7 linked regions of the Homo sapiens genome follow. The protein of the gene in region 1 purifies or fractionates together with the protein of each later gene. This does not show direct contact. Each region holds a gene or a part of one and is shown in the gene's direction. Other genes may lie near its edges.

Region 1 (3,500 bases):
CTCAGGGTAGCCAGTCACTGTATCGATTTAATATTAAGTCTCATTCCAGTAAAAGCAGGGACTTTGGAAAACCTTGGATGCACCTATTCCAGACAGATTCCTGTATTCTTTTTTTTTTTTTTTTTTGAGATAGAGTCTCGTTCTGTCGCCAGGCTGGAGTGCAGTGGCACAATCTTGGCTCACTGCAATCTCCGCCTCCTGGGTTCAAGCGATTCCCCTGCCTCAGCCTCCTGAGTAGCTGGGACTACAGGCACACACCGCCACGCCCGGCTAATTTTTTGGATTTTAGTAGAGACAGCGTTTCACCATGTTGTCCAGGATGGTCTCAGTCTCCTGTCCTCGTGATCCGGCCTCCCAAAGTGCTGGGATTACAGGTGTGAGCCACTGCGCCGGGCCTGATTCCTGTATTCTTTAAAACGGGAAAAAAGACAAGCAGCAGCTCCTCAGGTCACAAGGCCAGGTATATCAAACACTGGCCTCCGAGAATAGATCATGCCACCAAGTGAAAGAAACCTCTTCTTGGTCCTGTTGTGATTTTAGATAAAGTAGTCATGGAAGCTTGGTCATTACTATAGTCTTAATGTTATTTTTTTTAAAAAGGGGATTTAGTTGGGCTGATTTCCTCCCCTAAAGGTCCTCTGTCACCTTATTTAAATTTAAAACTGGTTTTACCAGAAAATAGGTAAACAAACACCACTGGTTGTCTCCAGTCTCTTTTCTTGCTCTTCCTCTCCCTCTTCTTTAAAAATGTGGCTGATGAGAACCTGTTTCCAGGAGCCCTTTAATCACTCTGAAACACACAGACACTGAAAATGTTGAAGCATAAAAATAAACCTTGCGTTACAGGGAGATTGCCTGTGTGCTGTCCACTTCGCTTATAACAGTGAAAGTAGGAGATTAAAAAAAAAAAAAAGTTAAGCCCTGTCTTTAAGATGGTTTTTGTGACACCTGATTCCAGATGTGCTTTTTCACAGCCATAGACTTCCTGCTTTTGCAGAAGGAGGGTTCTAATCTGGGGCTCGTAGCTTGGGGGATTCTTAGTTTGTGAGCTGAGCTTTTTGTTCACTTCTTTTCCAAATGACTCTGCTGGCCTGAAGCTTGGCAGTTGTGAAAGCAATCAGCAAGATGACTGTTTGTCTTCCAGCCAGCAGCAGCAGTCACAGGCAAGCCTGGAGAAAGGTCCAGCTTCCAGAGTTCACCTGCTAGAGTTTTCCATAACACCTGGGGGAGAGGCTACTCCATCTGGGACCTGCCCCACCTCTGGGCCTCAGAAACTATGAGAGAGGGATTGAGAGAAAACTTGCCCCACTTCTGCTGCAGTGGGAAGGGAGGGGGCTGCTGTCAGGCTTCTAGGCAGTGAGCGGCATTGTTTATTCTCTCAGTTCTAGGAAGGGGAGTTTAGAAGTACTGGTGAAGAAAACAAAGTTACAAGATCCTATAAGGAACAGCTGAACTACTCCAAACACTCTCACTGGACCCCCATTGTTGATTCTGGATAAAAATATATATATATATAAAACTCTTTTTTTTTTTGACACAGAGTCTTGCTCTGTCGCCCAGGCTGGAGTGTAGCGATGCGATCTCGGCTCACTGCAACCTCCGCCTCCCGGGTCAAGCGATTCTCCTGCCTCAGCCTCCTGGGAGTAGCTGGGACTACAGGCGCCCACCACCATGCTGGCTAATTTTTGTATTTTTAGTAGAGACGGGGTTTTGCCATATTGGCCAAGCTGGTCTCGATCTCCTGACCTCAGGTGATCTGCTGGATAAATATTTTTTTTTTGCTTTTGGTGTAACTTAGGTAGATTGGATCGGCTAGCTAGCATCTCAGTCCACACTCTGAGCTGTGCAGCAGTGTGCCCTGGTGCTAATTCTCACTCTGTCCTTTGATTCTGGCCAGGGGGTCCTTGGTGGTGCTGCCTTCTGGTCAGGAATGTGGGTGAATGTCAGACCAAATAGTGTCACTTTCGGCTTGGCCCTAGAGATCAGGAAGGAAGTGTTGTTAGAGCAAGGGCTTTGGGAGTCCTTGGAGTTCGTAACCTTTGAATCTGAAAAGTAACTGTACCTAGTAAATTAGAATAATTTCTCTCTGGTCAGGCACCATGGCTCATGCCTGTAGTCCTAGCACTTTGGGAAGCCAAGGCAGGAGGATTGCTTGAGGCCAGGAGTTCAAGACCAGCCTGATCAATAAAGTGAGACTCCATCTCTACAAAAAAATTTTTTTAAATTTAGCTGGGCATGGTGGCACATGCCTGTGGTTGCAGCTACACAGAAGGCTGAGGCAGGAGGATGGCTTGAGCTGGGGAGGTCGAGACTGCATTGAGCTGTGTTTGTGCCACTGCACTTCAGCCTGGGTGACAGAGCAAGACACTATCTCAGAAAAAAAAAATTACTTTTCTCCAATTTATGGACTTCGGAAAGTAGCTAAACAGATGGATATAAGACAGTTGTTGAAACTCGGCCTGCTGCAGATTAAAATAAAGTTTGCACAAGGATAACTTAATCTTTCAGACCAACCAAAGTTTGGGCTGGAGATTTTTCTCAGCATAAATGTCCTAAGCAGAGTTGGTGCCTATGAGGTAGGAAAAGATTGAGACTTTGCTTGCCTAAGAGGTTTGCAGGGTTCGAGCTTTTGGGAGTCAGAACTTCTCAGACTAGATTGTTTCCCCTTTGGACAGAACAACCCAATTCTCAGTGGGCATTTGATCAGGACTAACCCAGGCCTTCATGAACTCTTTCCCATTGAGCACTTAGCCACCTGGCTGGCATTTCTCTTCTCCCAGGAGCTTCCATGAGGTTCCTACTTATGTATTATGTCGACTTGAATGAATATTTTATGTCTAGAGTGCAGCCAAGCCTCAGACTTTGTGGCCCATTATCGACAAATGGGGTAGGGGGTGGGCGCCACCTTTGGCCCCGTGATAGCTTCTCTGCTAAATGGACTCCCCCCAGCAGCACTTTGAAGCCCATTAATGGATTGGAATGAAGTAACCTCAGCAGATGGAAAGGGTGAGGAGGGTGGTCATCTTCCTTCCCTGAGACTGCCTGATGAGGCTTTCCTACAGTAACCAGGACAAGCCCCTATTCCCTCTGCTTGGTTAAGCTGTGGACTGGAGCTACTAGGCCTCTGCTTTGAGAGGAAGTATAGAAAGGATTTGATTCTCTTTTAGCCATGGTGGGGCCGCCAGTTTCCCCACTTTCCCATCAAAGCAAAAATTGAGAAGGATGTGGAAAGGGTGGGTGGAGTTTAAAGCTGGCCCTTCCTCCTTCAGTGGAAGTTCAGCAAAATGACAAACCAGATAGGTGGCTAAATTTCCTTCTCTTGATGGGAGATTCCAGTATTTGTACGTTTTGTGCTTGTAGCTTGGATTCTCCAGGCCTCCTCCCAGCTTTCATCAAACATGAGTGAGTCACTGAAGTGTTGTCTATGCATTTTCTCCCTTCTGTCTCTGCAAAGGGAAGAGTAAGCCTTTACAAACCTGTGGGGGAGGAAGTCACCCTCT
Region 2 (3,500 bases), on another chromosome or scaffold:
TTTTTTGTATTTTTAGTAGAGACGGGGTTTCACCGTGTTACCCAGGGTGGTCTCGATCTCCTGACCTCGTGATCCTCCTGCCTCGGCCTCCCAAAGTGCTGGGATTACAGGCGTGAGCCACCGCGCCCGGCTTATAGAACCACTTTCTAAAAATCAGAAGAAATTTTTTTTTAAAGAAATGGCAGTAAAAAATAGGAATAATAAGTGTAGTTTGAAAAATACTGAACTTTTAGCCTTCGCTTTAGGATTCAGTTTAATTTGGCTTTTCCCATTTTTCAGCTTTTTGGAGTAACTGTTATAAACCAAAAATAAAATGAGTATTTATTTATTTATTTTTTGAGACAGAGTTTCCCTCTGTTGCCCAGCCTGGAGTGCAGTGGTGCGATCTTGGATCACTGCAACTTCCGCCTCCCGGTTCCAAGCGGTTCTCGTGCCTCAGTCTCCCAAATGGCTGGGATTACCGGCATGTGCCACCACACCCAGCTAATTTTTGTATTTTTAGTAGAGACAAGGTCTCACCATGTTGGCCATGCTGGTCGCGAACTCCTGGCCTCAAGTGATCCACCGGCCTCAGCCTCCCAAAGTGCTGGGATTACAGGCATGAGTAACCGCGCCCAGCTAAAATGAGTGTTTTCTTAAGTTTCCTTACAAATATCAAATAAAAGCCTCTCTTTTTTGTATTGGCAAGTGTGGTTAGAAGGCTAATTTAAAATAGAACAATTGGTATCTTTTTATGCATTTGGTTGATTGCATTTGAGATTACCCTATTGTTCAGAATGTATACTGGTTTCAAGTTGGATGAAGGATAGACATATTTCCCGTAGGCTTTTGAAATCAAGCATGATAAAGTGATACTTTGAGTACTTCCTAATACCTAGTTGTGCTAAGTATGTTCCTTTTCGTAAATAATTTTTTTAAAATACTAACATAAGCCAGGCGCAGTGGCTCATGCCTATAATCCCAGCACTTTGGGAGGCCGAGGTGGGCGGATCACTTGAGGTCAGGAGTTACAAACCAGCCTGGCCAACGCGGTGAAACCCAGTCTCTACTAAAAATACAAAAATTAGCCGGGCGTGGTGGCGTGCGCCTGTAATCCCAGCTACTCAGGAGGCTGAAGGCAGGAGAATTGCCTGAACCCGGGAGGCTGAGGTTGCAGTGGGCTGAGATCATGTCGTTGCACTCCAGCCCGGGCAACAGAGTGAGGCTCTGTCTCTTTAAAAAACAAAAGCGAAAACATATATTCAACTCTTAAAACATTTTGAGGTAGAGTATTATACTTTTATAGTGTGCGAAAATAAAATGTTACAGGAAACACTTGAGCTGAAAAAATGTCATTTGTTCATTGCTTTGAGCTTTACATTTACCTCTTAATTGATGCTTGCCATAAGGTGTTTAGTGATGTCATAATGATAGTGGTAATAACTGGTATGGTTACAACTAATAATATTGTTTTCTGCTGTGGTTCTGAATTAGATGGACTTCTAGGAATACTGTGGTAACAATGAAACATAACTCTGGCCTAAACCCAACTGAACATGTTCTTTCATAATAGGTATTGGGGGGTAAGGGGTGAATCTTAACTTTAGTGATGACTTTGGTGAAATGAACTTGATTAATAATTGGAATTTGATCACTTCCTGGCTTGAATGAAGCTGGTAAATTAATCTGAGGCCAAGCAATAAATGGTGAGTTGATAACCTCTATTGTCATGTTGTAATATTTATGTGTGTGAACAGAAAGGGTTGAGAGAGTCATGATTTTTCAGACTGGATGAAATGTGTATTTTTATACTCTGAAAAGATGATGAAGACATAAAGTCTTCTGGATAGTATTTTCCTGAGTTATAGCCTAATTACATAAATTTTGCATTAAGAAAGTGAAGAACGTGATCATCAGACACTTTTTAAGCAATATCATTTTTTATTTTTTTTGAGACAGAGTCTCATTCTGTCACCCAGGCTGGAGTGCGATCTCGGCTCACAGCAACCTCCGTCTCCGGGGTTCAAGCGATTCTCCTACCTCAGCCTCCCGAGTATCTGGGATTAGAGGCGTAAACCACCATACCTGGCTAATGTTTTGTATTTTTGTAGAGTCGGGGTTTCACCATGTTGACCAGGTTGGTCTTGAACTCCTGACCTCAAGTGATCCGCCTGCCTTGGCCTCCGAGAGTGCTGGGATTACAGACATGAGCCACTGCACCCAGCCAATTTTTAAGCAATAACATGTTATTCATTATTATTATTACTATCAGGATTTTCATATTTTACACTGGCAAAGTAATATTCTAAGAAGAGCAATTTATTGTATAGGGTCATTTAAGGATGGGCATGATCAACATAAAAATAACATCAAATTACTTTTCTTTTCTTTTTTTTTAGACAGAATCTTGTTCTGTTGCCCAGGCTGGAGTGCAATGGCGCAATCTCGGCTCACTGCAACCTCCGCCTCATGGGTTCAAGTGATTCTTCTGCCTCAGCCTCCCGAGTAGCTGGGACTACGGGCGTGTGCCACCATGCCTGGCTAATTTTCGTATTTTTAGTAGAGACAGGATTTCACAGTATTGGCCAGGCTGGTGTTGAATTCCTGACCTCGTGATCTGCCAGCCTCGGCCTCCCAAAGTGCTGGGATTAAGGCGTGAGCCACCACGCCTGGCCCCAAATTACTTTTCATACCAATATTTTGATTTCTGTTTTTCTTTAATTAAAAAAAAAATGGTTACCTAGCATAGTGCTTGTTACCTTGGCATTAGAAATGTTTGTGAATTATTCTTTCAATAAATATGGTGTGCTAGACATTGTATAAGCCTCTGGGGATACATCATTGAACAAGAAAGATAAGGTTCTTGCTCTACGGAGGCTTGTATTTTACTTTTAAAAACATTTTTTAGGTTTTGTTTGTTTGTTTGTTTTGTTTTGTTTTTGAGACAGTGTCTCACTCTGTCAGTCAGGCTGGAGTGCGGTTGTGCAATCATAGGTCTCTGCAGCCTTGACCTGCCAGGATCAAGCAGTCCTCTCACTTCAGCCTCTCAGGCTCAGCTGGGAATACAGGCATGTGCACTGACTGCTGGCTAATTTTTGTATTTTCTGTAGAGATGAGGTCTCACTGTTACCCAGGCTGGTCTTGAACTTTTAGGCTCAAGTGATCTCCTGCCTGGGCCTTCCAAGTATTGGGATGACAGGCATGAACCACCATGCTGCCTGGTAGTGGCTTGCATTTTAGAGGGGAGGATCAGTAAGTAAACAGATAGTGAGATGATGCAGCTAGTGTTAAGTACTAAGAGGAAAAGAAGATTGGTGAGGTGGCAGAGGATGGGCAGAGCTCCTTGAGTAGCTGGTCAGGGAGGCCTCTGAGGAGGTAACATTGTTACCTGAATGATGAGAAGAAGCCAGACGTGAAGGGAGAAGTGTTCAGGTGGAGGGAACAAAAAATCTCCAAGGCGGAAATGAGTTCGAGAAGTTTGAAGAACTCCAGTGAGTCTGGAGCTTAGTGAGCAGGACTGT
Region 3 (3,500 bases), on another chromosome or scaffold:
TCCCCCTGCCACAGCCTCTCAAAGTGCTGGGGTTACAGGCTTGAGCCATTGCACCCAGCCCCCTAATTATTCTTACTCTATACTAAGTTCTTTTTTTCCCCTACCTTTGTAAATGTAGGCATTCCCCCAAAGTTCATAATTCATTTAATGCAGGTAAAGTAACACAGACTTCGGTGTCACAAAAACAGTGGGTTTGGATTCTACCTTTACCACTTCCTGAGTGACCTTAGGCAAGAAGCTTTGTGAACTTCAACTTCTTATCTGTAGATAACACTGTATTTCATCAGATTTATTAGAGGAAAAAGAAAATACATGTAAGAACATATTTTGTGGACTATAAAGCGCTATTTTTTTTTTCTTACTTTCCCTTGGTGATTGCATTTCCATTCACCTCTCCCACACTAAAGAAGAGTTAGTGTTTCTAACTACTAACTAGACATCTCCATCTGTAATTTCCAGTTTGTTAATGACACCACCATCTTTTTAGTCACTCTTGAGTTCCTTCTTTCCTTTGCCCATCATTTGCAATATACTGCTAGACTTTGATTGTACTTCTACATTCTGTGTGCAACTCTTCCTTTCCATTCCCATTAATATAACTCTGACTTGTTGCCTAGATTAATCCTGTGGCCTCCTAACCAAGCTTCAGCTTTTCTTCGTTTTATCTTGAATACCAGTATTGATTATTCTCCCACAATATTAGTTCTAGTCATGTTTTGCTGTCTCTCCATTGCCTATAGAATAAAATCTTAAACTTCTTACTTTACATCTACTATTACATGACCTAAATCTACCATCCTGTTTTGTCTTTCATTAGTCCACTTCACACACACCCTTTAAACCTGACAGTCTTGTTCACTGAACAAGTCCTTAGTTTCCTGTCTTGCCTTTATTTTCAGTCTCTGCTTATCAGAATCTCATCTGTCTTGTATGACCCAGCCTAAATGGCACCCGCCTTGTACCCCAAACCAAGAGCAGTATTTCCCTCTGTTTTCATTGTATCACTGTCTCTGGTAGAACCTAACATGTTCTGCTTTGTTTTCATATCCCATGTGCACTATTGTGTTCTAAGCTCATTTTATGTGATTCTTTGTCTCCCCCAAGGATTTAACACTCTGCTTTTGTACAATGCATGTTGTTTAAATTAAAAGTGTTTGGAGTCTTTAACTATTTTTTTTTCCCAACAATAGGTTTATGCTAAAACTATCGATGGGCAACAGACTATTATTGCATGTATTGAAAGCCACCAGTTTCAGCCTAAAAACTTCTGGTAAGAAGTAGATATTCTCTTCTATTTACATCTGAAAGAAACCAGCAGTTGAGACTTGGTTTTTAATCCAACTAGCTTGGAATAATTATTTAACTTACAGACTTCAGTTTTCCATCTATAAATGAGGGATTTAGATTCCTTACAGTTCTAAGGTTTTATAATTATATTTTCCTTTAAAAGTTACTCTTATTTTGAGTGAGAACAAGTGATTAGTAAAGTGCCCTGTTGAAAATCTGAGTTTTACTTGGCTTAGGGTTACTGCTACTTGAGTTAATTGTGTAACTCAGCAGCCTATTCATCTGATTTTGGAAGAGCCTCCCATGAGCAGAATAGGCATGGTTTTCCATTTCAAGGGAAAAAAGGAAAAATGAAAGACAAAATAACTTAGAAAAGGCTTATGGTCAGGCCACTTAGATCCAGACTTACATTTGAGTAGACAGAGCTTTGGGTTTGCCAAACTGGAAATGACAGTTTCTCTCTCTCTCTTTTTTTTTTTCTTTTTTTGCACCCCTCTTTCCCAACTTCTGTACCTCAGTGGCAAATCACCTCTTTCTTGTGCTTATTGCTAATTCTGCAATGTTGTGTGTGTGTTTTAATAGGAATGGTCGTTGGAGATCAGAGTGGAAGTTCACCATCACACCACCTACAGCCCAGGTGGTTGGCGTGCTTAAGATTCAGGTGAGATTCCAACATGTTTATAGACTTAAAACTTCACATCTTTAAAACATGTGCAGGTTGCTTTGGTATTAAATAAGGACCAAGTATGTGTAGATGCAAAGGGAGACTGATGGCAGTGAATAGAAATAGAAGCCTCCTTCTTGGGGTGGTAAACAGAGAGAGCTATTCTGAGTTGATAAAGGATAGCATGTAGAGTGTATGGCAACATGGTTATTGTTATTTTTCCTTCAATGGTAACATAAGATATAACTAGGAATTATCAAACAGCAGTTTTAGGAAAGATTTAAAATTAATAATAATAATAATTATTATTTTTTGGGACAGAGTTTCACTCCATCACCCAGACTGGAGTGCAGTGACGTGATCTCAGCTAACTGCAACCTCCACCTCCCAGCCCAGGCTGGGTTAATTCCTAAAAATTATAACTAGAGAGAATGGCAGGTGTTTTGGAATATAAATAGCCAAGCAGAAGTAGATTGATTGATTGATTGATTGATTGACTGATTGATTGATTTTTGAGATGGAGTTTTGCTCTTATTGCCCAGGCTGGAGGTGCAATGGCATGATCTCGGCTCTTCGCAATCTCTGGCTCCTGGGTTCAGGTGATTCTCCTGCCTCGGCCTCCCGAGTAGCTGGGATTACAGGCATGCGCCATCACGCCTAGCTAATTTTCTATTTTTAGTACAGGCGGGGTTTCTCCATGTTGGTTAGGCTGGTCTCGATCTCCTGACCTCAGGTGATCCACCCGCCTCGGCCTCCCAAAATGCTGGGATTACAGGCGTGAGCCACTGCACCTGGCCCAGAAGTAGATTTTTAATGCTGATGTCAGGGTAGACAGGCAGCTGAATAAGATAGCTGTTAACTCATTTGATGCCTGTCTGGATTGAAGTTTAATATCCTAGCAGAGGTTTGACTTTCTAAACTCAGGGTGATTTAATATTTAAGCCTCACTAACTGTAAGGTCAGAATAGGTACAGGTAACCGAGAAGATCAGTACCTAATCGTACCTGTATTATATTATGTGAAGCTGTGCTTTAACAACAATTACCAAGAGTTGTCTTTTTTTTTTTTTTTTTTTTTTTTTGAGAAGGAGGAGAAGGAGGAGTCTCGCTCTGTCGCCCAGCCTGGAGTGCAGTGGTGCAATCTTGGCTCACTGCAACCTCTGCCTCCTGAGTTCAAGCAATTCTCTTGCCTCAGCCTCCCAAGTAGCTGGGATTACAGGCACACACCACCACGCCCAGCTAATTTTTGTATTTTTAGTAGAGGTGGGATTTCACTATGTTGGCCAGGCTGGTCTTGAACTCCTGACCTCAGGTGAGCCACTGTGCCCAGCCAAGAGTTGTCTTTTTTAATGCTCTAATTTAATCAAGTGCATAGGTAATAAATTCTGTAAAAGTAAATCTGCTCTTTTTATATATACCTATAGCTTCCTGCAACAAGTAGCTCCTGGCCATAGGAGCATGCCCAACTCAGGTGAGACAGGCTGGTGTTGAGTTCACAGCTCTAGGAGGAGCCCTCAGTGATATGTAAGAGTTGGTAGATAAATATGGCA
Region 4 (3,500 bases), on another chromosome or scaffold:
AGAAGAGAAGGGATCACAGTAATGCTTTTGGGGTGGGAGGAAGCCCACCTTCACGTTCAGTAAAAGGGATACGTGAGGCCGGGCATAGTGGCTCAAGCCTGTTATCCCAGCACTTTGGGAGGCCAAGGCGGGTGGATCACGAGGTCTGGAGATCGAGACCATCCTGGCTAGCACGGTGAAACCCCGTCTCTACTAAAAATACAAAAAATTAGCCGGGCGTGGTGGCGGGCGCCTGTAGTCCCAGTTACTGGGGAGGCTAAGGCAGGAGAATGGCGTGAACCCAGGAGGCAGAGTTTGCAGTGAGCTGAGATTGTGCCACTGCACTCCAGCCTGGGCGACAGAGTGAGACTGCATCTTAAAAAAAAAAAAAAAAAAAAAGGGATACATGAATGGAAGAAAGAAAATTAGCTTCAGCATCTGAACACTCAAAACAGTTTGTAAACATCAGTGTTTAATTAAATTATTTTGAGGATTATCTTCAACTATCAGGAAAAATGAAATGATTCTGAAATATGTTGTGGATTCTGAGTTGAACTGAAAGCTCCATGTGGGGGTGTAAAGGCTCTGCTTATCCAGCCACGTGTCCAGGTTAAGGCCTTAACATAGGACTGAAACAGAAGACTGTTAACTTTTTGCCATTCCCAAACATAGAAACAGATGTCCATCCACAGCTCTTCAGCCATTCTGGATGGCTAATTAGATGGGGGTATGGACTGCATTGCCATCAACTCAGATAAAATTCATTGCTCTTTTAATAAGGCAATACATAAATTGTATGTGTATGTCTGTTTTTGTTTTAGGATGTGTGTAGTAATCAGTTCAGTGATGCTACTGTGTGATTGAATGAACTGAGTAGATCGTTAAGGGTTCTTTTCTAACCACTATATTATTCAAGAATTCATTTAGAATGTCTTTAATTTCCTCCAGTTGGTAGCCCAATAGTGTACTGCCTTAAATGTTCAAAAAGCATGCCTCTGCCATTTGCAGTAACTGGAAACCTTAGGAATTTCTGCCAAAGTCCTTCAAAGCATAAAGCTGAAGTATGTATTGAAATGCTTGAGTCAGCTGCTCAAGGGTTATACTGACTGCACTCCTGCTGATTTTTCTAGGGTAAAAAAATCTCCTTGGTGACCTGAGGCAGCTACCCAGAAGCACGTGTATTATAACTATGCACAAAAAGCACAGAGATATACTACATCTAAATTCTAGCATTGGAATTGTTATATTTTTTATTATTATACTTAATTTCAGTAAATCTTTTTTAATAACGTATAAGAAAATAACTTTAACTCTTCTACTGATTACCATTAAAATTTTTTAACTCTTCTCTAACTTTCTAATTTAGGGAAGGAAAAAGAAAGGTACCTACTGTATTTATTGAATGTTTAGTATGTGCCTGAAATTTTTATTTGCTTAGTGTTACTCCCATTTTGTAGATGAGGACCTCAGAACAGTTAAGTGCGGTCACATAGCTTTGAATAGCAAGCACAGTTAGGATTTGAACAAGGTCTTCTTGATTCCAAAGGCATCTCTATGACCACATCATGCTGTAGAATGAGCTATCAACTATTAGGCCTATAAAAGACTATCAACCTTATTAAATAAAAAAACTAAGGTGCAGCACGGTAAGCATAATGTACCACCATATGTATGATCAGATATACACGCATGTGTATGTGTTTATTTTCATACATGCTTAGCATACCAGGCATCTCTTTGAATGGTTGCCTCTAGGAATGGAGACAGGGTAGCTAGAAATCTGGACTTTTATTATAAAACCTTTTATACCTCTTGAGTTTTGTTTTATGTGCATGTATTACCTATTCACAGGAGAAACTGTGTGTACCACTGTGCCCAGCCAGTTTGTCTAGTTTTTGAAACAAGAACACCATGCCTCGAGTGACAGTAATTGTAGTCATGACTGAAGTAAAACAAGTATTTTATGAGTTTTAAATTTGAACTTAAAAAAGCTTCCTATCTACTAAAAGCTTGATTTTCATTTGGGGCCACATTAATGGAAATAGAGTATTTTGAACAAGCAAGGGGGATCAGTTGAGTTGGCTTTGTGCTTATTAGATCATACCTTATCTTGAATATACTTTATTTTTGCACTTGATTTTAAGAACTGTAATGGCCTGTTTACATAGCTGTCTCCCCTGCAAGGCTGGGCATTCCTTGAGGGATAGAATCCATGGCTCATTTGCCCTTGTGTCTTTACTGGCTAGCCTAATTCCCAACACTTGGTAGGTAGCTAATAAAAGTTGATTGAGTTGAATGGAAATAGAAATACTTAGCTTAGTATGGGGAGGAGAGAGAAGAGAAAAATCTGTCTTCAGATAATTACAGAGTTCTCATGTAGAAGAGAGATTAAGTTTGTTCTATATGGCTTGAGAAGACAGGGAACCAGTGGGTAGAAGTATGGAGAAGTTTCTAAAGGTTGAATCATCTAAAGCCTAGATGGGTCTGTCTTAGAATCTATCTCCAGGGGATTCATGGCTCTTTAACTTACTTTTTTCCCCCATTTTTTGTTTGTTTGTTTGTTTGTTTGTTTTTGAGGCAGAGTCTTGCTCTGTCGCCCAGGCTGGAGTGCAGTGGCACAATCTCACTGCAGCCACCGCCTCCCGGGTTCAAGCAATTCTCCTGCCTCAGCTTCCTGAGTAGTTGGGACTACAGGCGCATGCCACCACGCTCACCTAATTTTTTGTATTTTTGGTAGAGATGGGGTTTCACTACGTTGACCAGGCTGGCCTTGAACTCCTGACCTCAAGTGATCCACCCGCCTCGGCCTCCCAAAGTGCTGGGATTACAGGAGTGAGCCACCGCGCCCAGCTCTTTCCTCCACTTTGTTATAGATATAGCATGTATGTGAATACTTTAGTTATCATTTATTATAGGAAGCAAAATTACTAACCTTCTTCTTTGATTTTTTTGTTCATAGTCAAGTTCATCCGAGAAGTAACACCATATATCAAGAAGCCATCATTAGTATCAGATCTGCCGTGGGAAGGTGCAGCCCCCCAGTCACCAAGCTTTAGTGGCAGTGAGGACTCTGGTTCGCCAAAACACCAGAACAGCACCAAGGACAGGAAGATCATCCCTCTCAAAATGTGCTTTGCTGCTAGAAACCTAAGCATGCCGGATCTGGAAAACAGGTGAGGTGTACCTAACAAGAACATCATACCTACAGCTTTACAAACTTAAGGACATGTTGCAGTATTATATGACTCTGTTAACTCAGTTATACAGAGGAAAACATCTGTCTGAGGTGAGAGATGCATTTTTGGGGTTCCACATTTTAAGTTATTCTACATATATACATGTATATGTGTAGAAAAAATTTTGAACAGACACACAAGAAACTGTTAATGGCTTTACCTCTAGGGTGTCAAATAAGACTAAAGGGGTGAAAGAAAGAGGGGGCATCTTTTCTTCCTTTTATGTCTTTCTGTAATGTTGTTATTACTTTTTTCACTATGAATATGTATTACTTTATAATTGAA
Region 5 (3,500 bases), on another chromosome or scaffold:
CACCAACTGTGTGCGCCAGGCCATGCGCTCCGGCTCACTGGAGAGGAAAGTGAAGAGCACATCCAGCCAGACGGTGGGCCTGGCCAGTGTGGGCACACAGACCATCCGCACGGTCAGCGTGGGCCTGCAGACCGACCCACCCCGCAGCAGCCTCCATGGCAAGGCCTGGTCACCCCGCAGCTCTTCGCTCGTGTCTGTGCGCAGCAAGCAGATCTCCTCCTCCCTGGACAAGGTCCATTCGCGCATCGAGCGGCCCTGCTGCTCCCCCAAGTATGGCTCACCAAAGCTCCAGAGGCGGTCTGTGTCCAAGCTGGACAGCAGCAAGGACCGCAGCCTGTGGAACCTGCACCAGGGCAAGCAGAACGGCTCGGCCTGGGCCCGCTCCACCACCACGCGGGACAGCCCTGTATTGAGAAACATCAACGATGGACTCTCCAGCCTCTTCAGTGTGGTGGAGCACTCAGGGAGCACGGAGTCTGTCTGGAAACTAGGCATGTCTGAGACGCGGGCCAAGCCCGAGCCTCCCAAGTACGGCATTGTGCAGGAATTCTTCCGTAATGTGTGTGGCCGGGCACCGAGCCCCACCTCATCAGCAGGAGAGGAGGGCACCAAGAAGCCAGAGCCCCTCTCCCCAGCCAGCTACCATCAGCCAGAGGGTGTGGCCAGGATCCTGAACAAGAAGGCAGCCAAGTTGGGCAGCAGTGAGGAGGTCAGACTCACCATGCTCCCCCAGGTGGGGAAGGATGGTGTCCTCCGGGACGGAGATGGAGCCGTGGTCCTTCCCAATGAGGTAGGTGGGTGGGATCTGTCCTTTCTCTTAGTAGGTGGAGTTAGTATATAAGGTCCAAGCTCTTTTGGTTTTTAAGTTCAGAGATATGGGCCGAGGTGGGTGGATCGCCTGAGATCAGGAGTTCAAGACCAGTCTGGCCAACATGGTGAAACCCCATCTCTACTAAAAATACAAAAATTGGCCAGGCGTGGTGGCATGCACCTGTTGTCCCAGCTGCTCTGGAGGCTGAGGTAGGAGAATCACTTGAACCCAGTAGGCGGAAGTTGCAGTGAGCTGAAATTGTGCTATTGCACTCCAGCCTGGGTGACAGACTAAGACTCCGTCTCACCAAAAAAAAAAAATTATCTATCTGTCTGTCTGTCTGTCTGTCTGTCTGTCTGTCTGTCTGTCTATCTATCTATCTATCTATCTATATATCTATATATATAAAATAAAAATTCAGGGATATGGCCATGTGTTCCAGGAAGTTCTTATGCTGGTCTAGGATAGAGTTGGAAGGTCCCAGACCTGGAACAACACAGACCTGATGGTCACATGGTCTGAATTCCAAGAGACTAGTGAGCATGGCTTAACTAGCAGCTTTTGCTCCACCCACCAGAGACTGCCAGCATCCCCTCCAGGGAAGGGGCCTTACTGCTCTCCTGCCACCCAGTGGTGTGCTAGAGCCAGCTTGTTTGGCTTGCAGGAGCCAATTGTCAGCATCTCTGTGGGTTTTTTTTTTTTTATTGTTTTTGTTTTTGTTTTGAGAGAAGTCTCGTTCTTGTCCCCCAGGCTTGAGTGCAATGACTCAATCTCGGCTCACTGTAACCTCCGCCTCCTGGGTTCAAACAATTCTGTCTCTGCCTCCCAAGTAGCTGGGATTAAGGCACCTGCCACCATGCCCGGCTAATTTTTGTATTTTTTAGTAGAGACGGGGTTTCACCATGTTGGCCAGGCTGGTCTCGAACTCCCGACCTCAAGTGATCCGCCCACCTTGGCCTCCCAAAGTGTTAGGATTACAGGCGTGAGCCACCGCGCCTGGCCACATCTCTGTGTTTAACATCACCTTGGTACCTTGAGATTGGCCACAGTGGGAGGATTTACAGCATAAAAATTGGTAAACACTACAAATCGGGGCTCCTCCTATCACTCCTGGAAAACTAATTGTTAAACATTAGCGGGCATACCACTTCTCCACCCCATCAAGACTTCACACCTAAGTGCTCACATTTCCTCTGAGAATCTTTCACACCCCACTCCTGCTATCAGTTTCTTATAAGTTAATTAGTAAACCTTATTTGAATGTTAGTGAGCATTATTTGAATGTGTTAGAATGTGCATAAGTTAACTTTGCAGAAAGGGAAGGAAATGTATTTGAAGGATGGCATGTTTTATAAAACCCAAGAGTAGGAACCTGACAACCTCAGCAGCTTCTCCCTGTCTTCCTCTCCTCTCTTTAAGCTTCACCCTCTCTGATATCATATTCCTCCTTTTTCTCTGTTTCTCTCTCTGTTGCATTTGCACAAGGACTGGGTGGGCTGTCCCAGCTCTGACTTTACAACATCTTCCAGTTCAAGCCCCTAGGAGAGACTGACACAAATCCCTGTCTCCCAATTCCACATTTCTGAAAGAAGGAAACTCTGATTGGTGCAGCTAGAGGCGAGTGTACCCCTTGGTCCAGTCTATGGCTGGGAGTGGTACCATGTGGTCTGCTGTGGGGCACAGAGACATGAGAAGGGCTGTGTGTGGAATGGGCTGTGATAGACTCAAACATTCTACTTTTCTATTATTGTACGTTTAGGTGGTTTCTAGTTTGTCCCTACTGCAAATAATGCTGTGGTGAACATCTTGGTGCAAAATCATTTTTTTACATTTCAGACTATTTCCTTAGGTATAAGTTGCAGAAATGAGATTAAAGGATAATAGAATATAAATGTGGCCGGGCGCGGTGGCTCATGCCTGTAATCCCAGCACTTTGGGAGGCCGAGGCGGGTGGATCACAAGGTCAGGAGTTTGAGATCAGCCTGGCCAATATGGTGAAACCCTGTCTGTACTAAAAATACAAAAATTAGCCGGGCATAGTGGTGGTCACCTGTAGTCCTAGCTACTCAGGAGGCTGAGGCAGGAGAATCGCGTGAACCCAGGAGGCGGAGGCTGCAGTGAGCTGAGATGGTACCACTGCACTCCAGCCTGGGTGACAGAGTGAGACTCCATCTCCACACAAAAAAAAAAATATAAATGTTTTAAAGTTATTTGATAAATACTGCCAAATTGTTTTTCAAAAGTGTGCCATATCTACAGCTTCCAGCAGTGTGTGGCGAGTGCGTTACTTTTCTATACTCTCACTCAGCTGGCTGACATTTAAAAACATCTTTTAAATATTTATTCCTTTTTTGGCCAGGTGCAATGGCTCATGTCTCTAATCCCAGCACTTTGGGAGACTGAGGTGGGCAGATCACTTGAGCTAGGAGTTCAAGACCAGTCTGAGCAACATGGTGAGAGCTCATCTCTACATTAAAAAAAAAAAAAAAGAGGCCAGGCATGGTGGCTTACGCCTGTAATCCTAGCACTTTGGGAGGCCGAGGCAGGTGGATTGCCTGAGCTCAGGAATTTAAGACCAGCCTGGGCAACACAGTGAAACCCCATCTCTACTAAAAAATACAAAAAATTAGCCAGGCGTGGCAGCATGCGCCTATAGTCCCAGCTACTCGGGAGGCTGAGGCAGGAGAAT
Region 6 (3,500 bases), on another chromosome or scaffold:
TGTGAATCCCTTTACCCATGTATATGTGTTTGTCTTCACCGCTGATTTGCAAATAAGAAGTCTCATATCAAGTGGGAAGGGTAGATTTTTATAATTTCACTGAAATTCAATACCAAATGGTAAAATCTGGAATGCCTTGACTGTGAGAGAAAATAACAAAATATTTTAAATAGGGTATACATTCCAATTATTAGTTTTTGAAATTTATTCTAAAGAAATTTCTGCTCATATAAGGATGGGCAGAGGATAACTGGGCTTGAATAACTGGGCCACACCTACATTTAGGTGTGGTGGAGAGGCAGAGCTCCAGAGCAATCTGTTCAAAATTCTGTGATGCTGGAAATGCTCTATATCTTCTTAGTCCAATATAGTAACTACTAGCCACATGTGGCTATTAAACACTTGAAAGGTAGCTAGTGCGACTGATGAAACAGATTTCAAATCTTATTTAATGCTAAGTAATTGAAATAGCCACGTGTGTCTAGTGCTATCTTAATAGACAGTGACACTCTAGAATTAAGCACAACAAATAGGGTCTTTTATTTAATATCGGAGGTTAATTTCAAGCACCTCTGCTAAATTCGGATGATATAGATAGGACAAGAAGGTGAGTATTCTTTGTGCAATTTCCCTTTTATCTACAGAAATACAGATCAATGAAATCCTTTGATTCTAGTGACTGCAAGTCCAAGATTTTCCAGAGAAGTGTTGGTCTCAAGTAGTCTGTAGTTTTGTTTGCTTAAGAATTTTAATGCTCATTCATTTTCTCATTTATTTTTTTTAAAAAACCTTATATTGAATATATTTGTGTTGGACACTGACATTGAAAAGATAGTAGTAGTGCAGAGTTCCTTGATTCAGGAAATCCTTGGAGTATCCTAAGGAGTAAATGGTGCAGAGCAGATATTACAGAGGAGGGGAGAGAAAATGCTGTGTGGAGAAGGAAGCACTGGGATAAACCTTAAAGAAATGGCCAGTGTTCAATAGGAAGCTGGGGAAAGGAGGATCTTGAGAAACAGAACAGTATGGGAAAACCAGGGAGAGATGAGAATCAGAAATGTCTGGAAATGTAATAATGGCAGCAGCACAGAAAATAGACTAGTGTGTAGACAGAAATGAGTCCAGAAGTTAATGTTACAATCCAGAACAAGTATGAGGGAGGTTATGAGCTAAGGGGATGAAAGTAGAATTTAAAAAGAGTAGATTTGAGAGGTGTTTTGTCTGTTGCTTCTCTTTACAATAAGTCAGGTAGAGAACAACTGATTTATCTTTTAAGCCCCCTTGAAAATTGTCGATTACTGCATACAATGCTGGAGCAGGATTTTTGTGGCCAAGGAAACTGAGCGTATCTTACAATATGCAAGTTTTTCAAACAGGACCAACTTACATAAATCATCCTCTTGGAAGTAGGCGCAACTACATCATGTATGTAGTTGAAATGTATGACACATGACAATTTTGTTTGGGGATGTAATGTAACTGAGGTGGAAACTTAATATTTATGAGACTTCCTCTTTCGTTAAAATCTTAACATTCTTTGATTTTGACAAATAGTGTTTTTATTTCTTCCAAAAATACAAGAATTTTAAAAGTATATAATTAGGCATCGTTTAGAAAGGTCAAAAAAGCAATCGTCTGTTGAATTTATGATTTGGGTACATTATTCTTCTCCAGTCTTTACCCCATTTTGATGGACTTTTTTCTCTTGGCAGTATATCCAGGTTCATTTATAGGTGGGAAGACAGTAGAAGCTGTTATTCCAGCATCAAAGCCCCCACTGTTTTCTAATAAGACGTTAGGTTTTATTTCTTCCAAAGCCTTATGATCACTGCAGTCAAAAAAAGAAGGGTGGAAAATGCAGAAAAATGGTGGAGGAGGTGGAGTATGGTCTTGGTCATAAAGAAATGAAAGGAGAAAGGTATTACTGAAGAGTATGGGCATTAGTCTGACTGTAAGGAGGACTTTGGCAGTAACTACAAGCCAGAGTGAGTGAGGAAAGAATAGCAGCCATTTGGGCAATGTGCTGACCATGTGTGGCTTGATACTAGGAAACCTGAACATACAGCAGGACAGAGAGGAGCACATCATGTGAGAGTTCCATGAGTTCTCGGATTTAAGAAAATAGAAGACTTTCTAAGTGCCAGATACTGTTCTAAGTACTTTTTGTTTAACCTATTTAAGGCAATTAACCCTTTTTTTTTGGAGAACAGTCATAGAACATGGAAATCACTGAAGAAATGTAAGTAGTGGTGGGATGCAGTGGCTCACGTCTGTAATCCCAGTACTTTGGGAGGCTAAGGTGGGTGGATCACCTGAGGTCAGGAGTTCAAGACCAGTCTGGCACCAACATGGCGAAACCCCGTCTCTACTAAAAATACAAAAACAAAACAAAAACTAGCCAGGCATGGTGGTGTGGGTCTACTGTAGTCCCAGCTACTCAGGAGGCTGAGGCAGGAGAATCACTTGAACCAGGGAGGTGAAGGTTGCAGTGACCCCAGATCGCACCACTGCATTCTAGCCTGGGTGACAGAGTGAGACTTCATCTCAAAAAATAAAAAAATAAAAAAATAAGTAGTTATTATCTCTCCATCAATCCTCACAACAACCCTATGAGCAGGGTACTTTTACCATCTTTATTTTACAGATGAAGAAATTAAGGCCCGAGAGGTTAAGTAATCCCCCAAACAGCATACAGTTAATCAGAGAGAGCTCTATTTAATCAGCTCAACTACTACGCCATCCTGCCTACTCTTAATCTATGTTAATTTTATAATATGTACAGAGATGATACTTGTAACGTGCTCACAAAGTGCCTGACATATAGTAAACCTGCAAAAATGTTAGCAATTATCATTATGTAATAAGATTTAGAAGACTTTCCGGTATTTATGTCATTCTACACCGACACTGCTCAGAAATAGTAACAAGATTTTTAGGGCAGCTCTGGATTTTTCTTATGTAAAGTGTAAAGAAAGCTTTGTTTAGGAGCATGCCCTTATAAATTGGAGAAACTCTTCTTCTACCCAAATACTGTCAATCAGTTTGACTGGCACAGTTGAAGTTTTTACCTCAAAGAATGGGCCTCATTGAAATGTTCTATATACTCATCTACATGGCTCTGACCTTCTGACAGAGAATGACTGCTGCTAATGGTACTAATAAGAGCAAATGGAATTCCCTTCCAAGCTTGGTATTTGAATAATATGTCAATTTGTTCATTGCCGTCTTACTAGGAATTAAATGCGCTAATATTTTTATAACCTAAGGGAGCTAGTGCGAGGTTGGCAGCCAGAAAAGGGAATCAGGCCAGAGGCTGGCCAAGGCATAGTCATGAGGGGGTGGAAGGGTCACAAAGTCAAAGTCAAGCAGGTGGACCCAGGCAGAACCCAACCAGACTCTAGAACAAAGTTAGGTTCAAAGTTTGGTTCTTATCTCCTTTCCCTATAATGTGGGCTGGTAGGGGTGGGTTGATTGTCATCCTCTGTACAAAAAGAATTGTA
Region 7 (3,500 bases), on another chromosome or scaffold:
TTTATCTCTTCAATAGTTGAAAAAGATTGTTATTCTTTACTTATTTGTCTTTACTTAACCTCCTGGATAGGGACCTTAACTCTAAAACTAAGCTAATAGTTTAAGACATACTGATTTTTGACTCTGAGAGGCTTGCTGATGAGCTCTTAATGATGGAGCATGTGGAGTTGGCAAGAATGACTTAAACTATTGGCCAATGTTTAAATTATGTATATGATTTTCCAGTGTTATATATTTGAATATAGACACACTGTTTTTTGTTTGTTTGTTTGTTTGTTTGTTTTGCAATTTGAACCTAAAGTTTGAACTTAATCATTGGGTTCCTACTGGAGATTTATCTTATCGTTATCTGCACAGAATAAACAAATAACTTTTCAACTTTCATATTTTGTCATGACATCACAACTTGAAAGATTTGTCAGTATAGGCTATTAAGTATTGACTCCATTTTGTTTATTTTATTTTATTATTATTATTATTTTTGAGACAGAGTCTTGCTCTGTCACCCAGCTGGAGTGCAATGGCACGATCTTGACTCACTGCAGCCTTCGCCTCCCGGGTTCAAGGGATTCTTCTGCCTGAGCCTCCGGAGTAGCTGGGATTACAGGTGCCCGCCACGATGACCAGCTAATTTTTGTATTTTTAGTAGAGATGGGGTTTCACCATGTTGGCCAGGCTGGTCTCCATTTTGTAATTAACCAAAATTGACTAAATGAAACGTTACACAATTGCACAAATATCATAAATAAAAATTTTTCTGTAACTAATGAACTTTTTTTGCTTCTTACCTGAGCTCTTTGAAATCACGTATTTTTTTTTTTTTTTTTTGAGATGGAGTCTCCCTCTGTCGCCCAGGCTGGAGTGCAGTGGTGCAATCTTGGCTTACTGCAAACTCTGCCTCCCGGGTTCACGCCATTCTCCTGTCTCAGCCTCCCGACTAGCTGGGACTACAGGCGCCTGCCACCATCCCGGCTAATTTTTTGTATTTTTAGTAGAGACGGGGTTTCATCGTGTTAGCCAGGATGGTCTCGATCTCCTGACCTCATGATCCGCCTGCCTCGGCCTCCCAAAGTGCTGGGATTACAGGCGTGAGCCATCGTGCCCGGCCTGAAATCAGGTATTAATTGGAAATAAATTACAACAGTATTTGTCAAGTCCAGAATCTATAACAGCACAATTTTGTTATGTGTTTGTTTTGTTTAGTATCTTTAGATACTAAAAAAATGTACTTTAGGATATATCCCAAGTGGCAAAATTCAAATAGTTAGTAGTATGTCATCTGCTTAACTCTAGCAAATGATGAACACTATCAATACAGTAATTTGTTGTGTGTTATATTTAATGAAACTATTTTGATTAACTTTTTTGTATCATTTATCCTTCTTATACAAGTGCCTGTGGGAAGACATTTAATTTGATTTGATATAGGTACTTTGGAAAACCTTAATTTCTCTATTTTGCACAGATTTTGTTTCAGTAATCCTTTGGGGGACAAATTATGACATCTGGGAAATATGAACATTTTCTGACTTTAAATAGTATTTAGTAATTTAATATTGGTACATCAGTTGTACCTGTTATGACTGGGAATACCGATACCCTTCATAAATACCTAACTTACCAGAAATAATTTATTCACTGGCCATATAGTTCATAATACTGCGCTATAATATACAATGTCCCTTAGAATTTCCAATCTGCCAGCTGCAGCCATTATTAAAATTAGTTTTATCTCTAGCTGAAAAGAGGGCCAGATAATATCTACCATTCTACCTAATTCTGATCTTCTGCATTAGAATATATAGTCAATAAATAACAGTGGATGGGATAGTGAGCAAAACCCGTAGCAGTAAATAAAAATGAATGTTACCAATGTAGAGTTGTTCTAGGCTACTCCTCATATTTTTAAGACTAACTTCGTAGTTTAGCTAGCACCAATTTCCAAAGAATATAGATTCTTATGTAGATTTTATCTTATATGGGGCTTCATATGAAGACAGTGAAGGCTGGGTGTGGTGGTTCATGCCTGTAATCCCAGCACTTTGGGAGGCTGAGGTGGGCATATCACAAGGTCAGGAGTTCAAGCCCAGCTGGCCAATATGGTGAAGTCACATTTCTACTAAAAATACAAAAATTAGCCGGGTGTGGTGGTGCACACCTGTAGTCCCAGCTACTGGGAGGCTGAGGCAGGAGAATCACTTGAACCTGGGAGGCAGAGGTTGCAGTGAGCTGAGATCGCACCACTGCACTACTTCAGCCTGGGTGACAGAGCGAGACTCCGTCTCAGGAGAAAAAAAAAAAAAAAAAAAAAAAAAAGAAAATGAGCCAGAGAGAAATTAAATGGCTTTCTTTATGATAGTCACACCTTGTTAATTTGGGCTTCAGTTTCCTTTTGCAGTATCTTTGAAAAAAAGCTATGTTAAATAAATGAAAAGTGTAATGAGACTGGGTCAAAACTCTTTGAGCTACCATTTCTTATTTTTCCTCTTTTTCTTCACTCCCCCAACAACCGTTTCTATATGAGACGTATTTTTAATTTATGGATTAGTCAGCATACTGATAATAATACCTTAATGTGAATCTGAATCTCATAAAGCTCTAGTAAGAACTTTTTTTTTTTTTTTTTTTTTTTGAGACAGGGTCTAGCTCTGTTGCCCAGGCTGGAGTGCAGTAGCATGATCTCGGCTCACTGCAGCCTCCACCTCCTGGACTCAAGCTATTCTTGTGCCTCAGCCTCCCAAGTAGCTGGGATTACAGGTGTGTGCCACCACGCCCGGCTAATTTTGTATTTTTAGTAGAGATGGGGTTTCTCTGTGTGGTCCGGGCTGGTCTCCAACTCCTGGCATCAAGTGTTCCACCCACCTTGGCCTCCCAAAGTGTTGGGATTACAGATGTGAGCCACCGCACCTGGCCTAAAACTTTTTTTTTTTTTTTTGAGACAGGGTCTCACTCTGTTGCCCAGGCTAGAGCACAGTTGTGCAGTCATGGCTCACTATAGCCTTGACCTCCTGGGCTTAAGAGATCTTCCCACCTCAGCCTCCTGAGTAGCTGGGACCACAGGTATGTGCCACCACTCCCAGCTAATTTTTGTATTTTTAGTAGAGACGAGTTTTTGTCATGTTGCCCAGGCTGGTCTCAAACTCCGGGGCTCAAGCAATCTTCCTGCCTCGGCCTCCCAAAGTGCTGGGATTACAGGCATGAGCCACAGCGCCTGGCCAGAAATTTTATTAGGTAACACTTTTTCCTCATTTGAATTATTATATGCATTTAAAAATAAATTGATTTATTTAAAAGTTATTGATTTAGACATTTTATAATTTAGACATACATTTATTTCATTTGAATAACTATTTTACGTATCCTATCCTCACTTTATCTAATTTGCTGTATAGGTCAGTTAATGGCAGAGATATATAACTAGGTCTTCTGACCTCCACCTTTGTTACTTTATTTGCTTGATACGTACTGAGACTTTGTCTCGTTTATCTTTAGAAAGTGCC

The links.
Region 2: the proteins of MARK2 (region 1) and CEP85L purify together in Homo sapiens (affinity purification with mass spectrometry; 2 studies listed by BioGRID and IntAct, with this or other methods). This does not show direct contact.
Region 3: the proteins of MARK2 (region 1) and CAPZA1 purify together in Homo sapiens (affinity purification with mass spectrometry; 2 studies listed by BioGRID and IntAct, with this or other methods). This does not show direct contact.
Region 4: the proteins of MARK2 (region 1) and SNTB2 purify together in Homo sapiens (affinity purification with mass spectrometry; 2 studies listed by BioGRID and IntAct, with this or other methods). This does not show direct contact.
Region 5: the proteins of MARK2 (region 1) and MTCL2 purify together in Homo sapiens (affinity purification with mass spectrometry; 2 studies listed by BioGRID and IntAct, with this or other methods). This does not show direct contact.
Region 6: the proteins of MARK2 (region 1) and DTNA purify together in Homo sapiens (affinity purification with mass spectrometry; 2 studies listed by BioGRID and IntAct, with this or other methods). This does not show direct contact.
Region 7: the proteins of MARK2 (region 1) and MRPL22 purify together in Homo sapiens (affinity purification with mass spectrometry; one large-scale study listed by BioGRID and IntAct). This does not show direct contact.

Annotation. Positions count from the first base shown.
Region 1 is NC_000011.10:63,842,110-63,845,609, forward strand, and holds part of MARK2 (serine/threonine-protein kinase MARK2), read left to right. Parts: intron 1-3,500. UniProt on the Homo sapiens protein: Serine/threonine-protein kinase. Involved in cell polarity and microtubule dynamics regulation. Phosphorylates CRTC2/TORC2, DCX, HDAC7, KIF13B, MAP2, MAP4 and RAB11FIP2. Phosphorylates the microtubule-associated protein MAPT/TAU.
Region 2 is NC_000006.12:118,645,092-118,648,591, reverse strand, and holds part of CEP85L (centrosomal protein of 85 kDa-like), read left to right. Parts: intron 1-1,217; exon of another isoform or gene 1,218-1,685; intron 1,686-3,500. UniProt on the Homo sapiens protein: Plays an essential role in neuronal cell migration.
Region 3 is NC_000001.11:112,657,832-112,661,331, forward strand, and holds part of CAPZA1 (F-actin-capping protein subunit alpha-1), read left to right. Parts: intron 1-1,190; coding exon 1,191-1,270; intron 1,271-1,869; coding exon 1,870-1,948; intron 1,949-3,374; coding exon of another isoform or gene 3,375-3,404; exon of another isoform or gene 3,405-3,421; intron 3,422-3,500. UniProt on the Homo sapiens protein: F-actin-capping proteins bind in a Ca(2+)-independent manner to the fast growing ends of actin filaments (barbed end) thereby blocking the exchange of subunits at these ends.
Region 4 is NC_000016.10:69,242,664-69,246,163, forward strand, and holds part of SNTB2 (beta-2-syntrophin), read left to right. Parts: intron 1-2,938; coding exon 2,939-3,152; intron 3,153-3,500. UniProt on the Homo sapiens protein: Adapter protein that binds to and probably organizes the subcellular localization of a variety of membrane proteins. May link various receptors to the actin cytoskeleton and the dystrophin glycoprotein complex.
Region 5 is NC_000020.11:36,790,539-36,794,038, reverse strand, and holds part of MTCL2 (microtubule cross-linking factor 2), read left to right. Parts: coding exon 1-790; intron 791-3,500. UniProt on the Homo sapiens protein: Microtubule-associated factor that enables integration of the centrosomal and Golgi-associated microtubules on the Golgi membrane, supporting directional migration. Preferentially acts on the perinuclear microtubules accumulated around the Golgi.
Region 6 is NC_000018.10:34,716,798-34,720,297, forward strand, and holds part of DTNA (dystrobrevin alpha), read left to right. Parts: intron 1-3,500. UniProt on the Homo sapiens protein: May be involved in the formation and stability of synapses as well as being involved in the clustering of nicotinic acetylcholine receptors.
Region 7 is NC_000005.10:154,951,073-154,954,572, forward strand, and holds part of MRPL22 (large ribosomal subunit protein uL22m), read left to right. Parts: intron 1-3,500.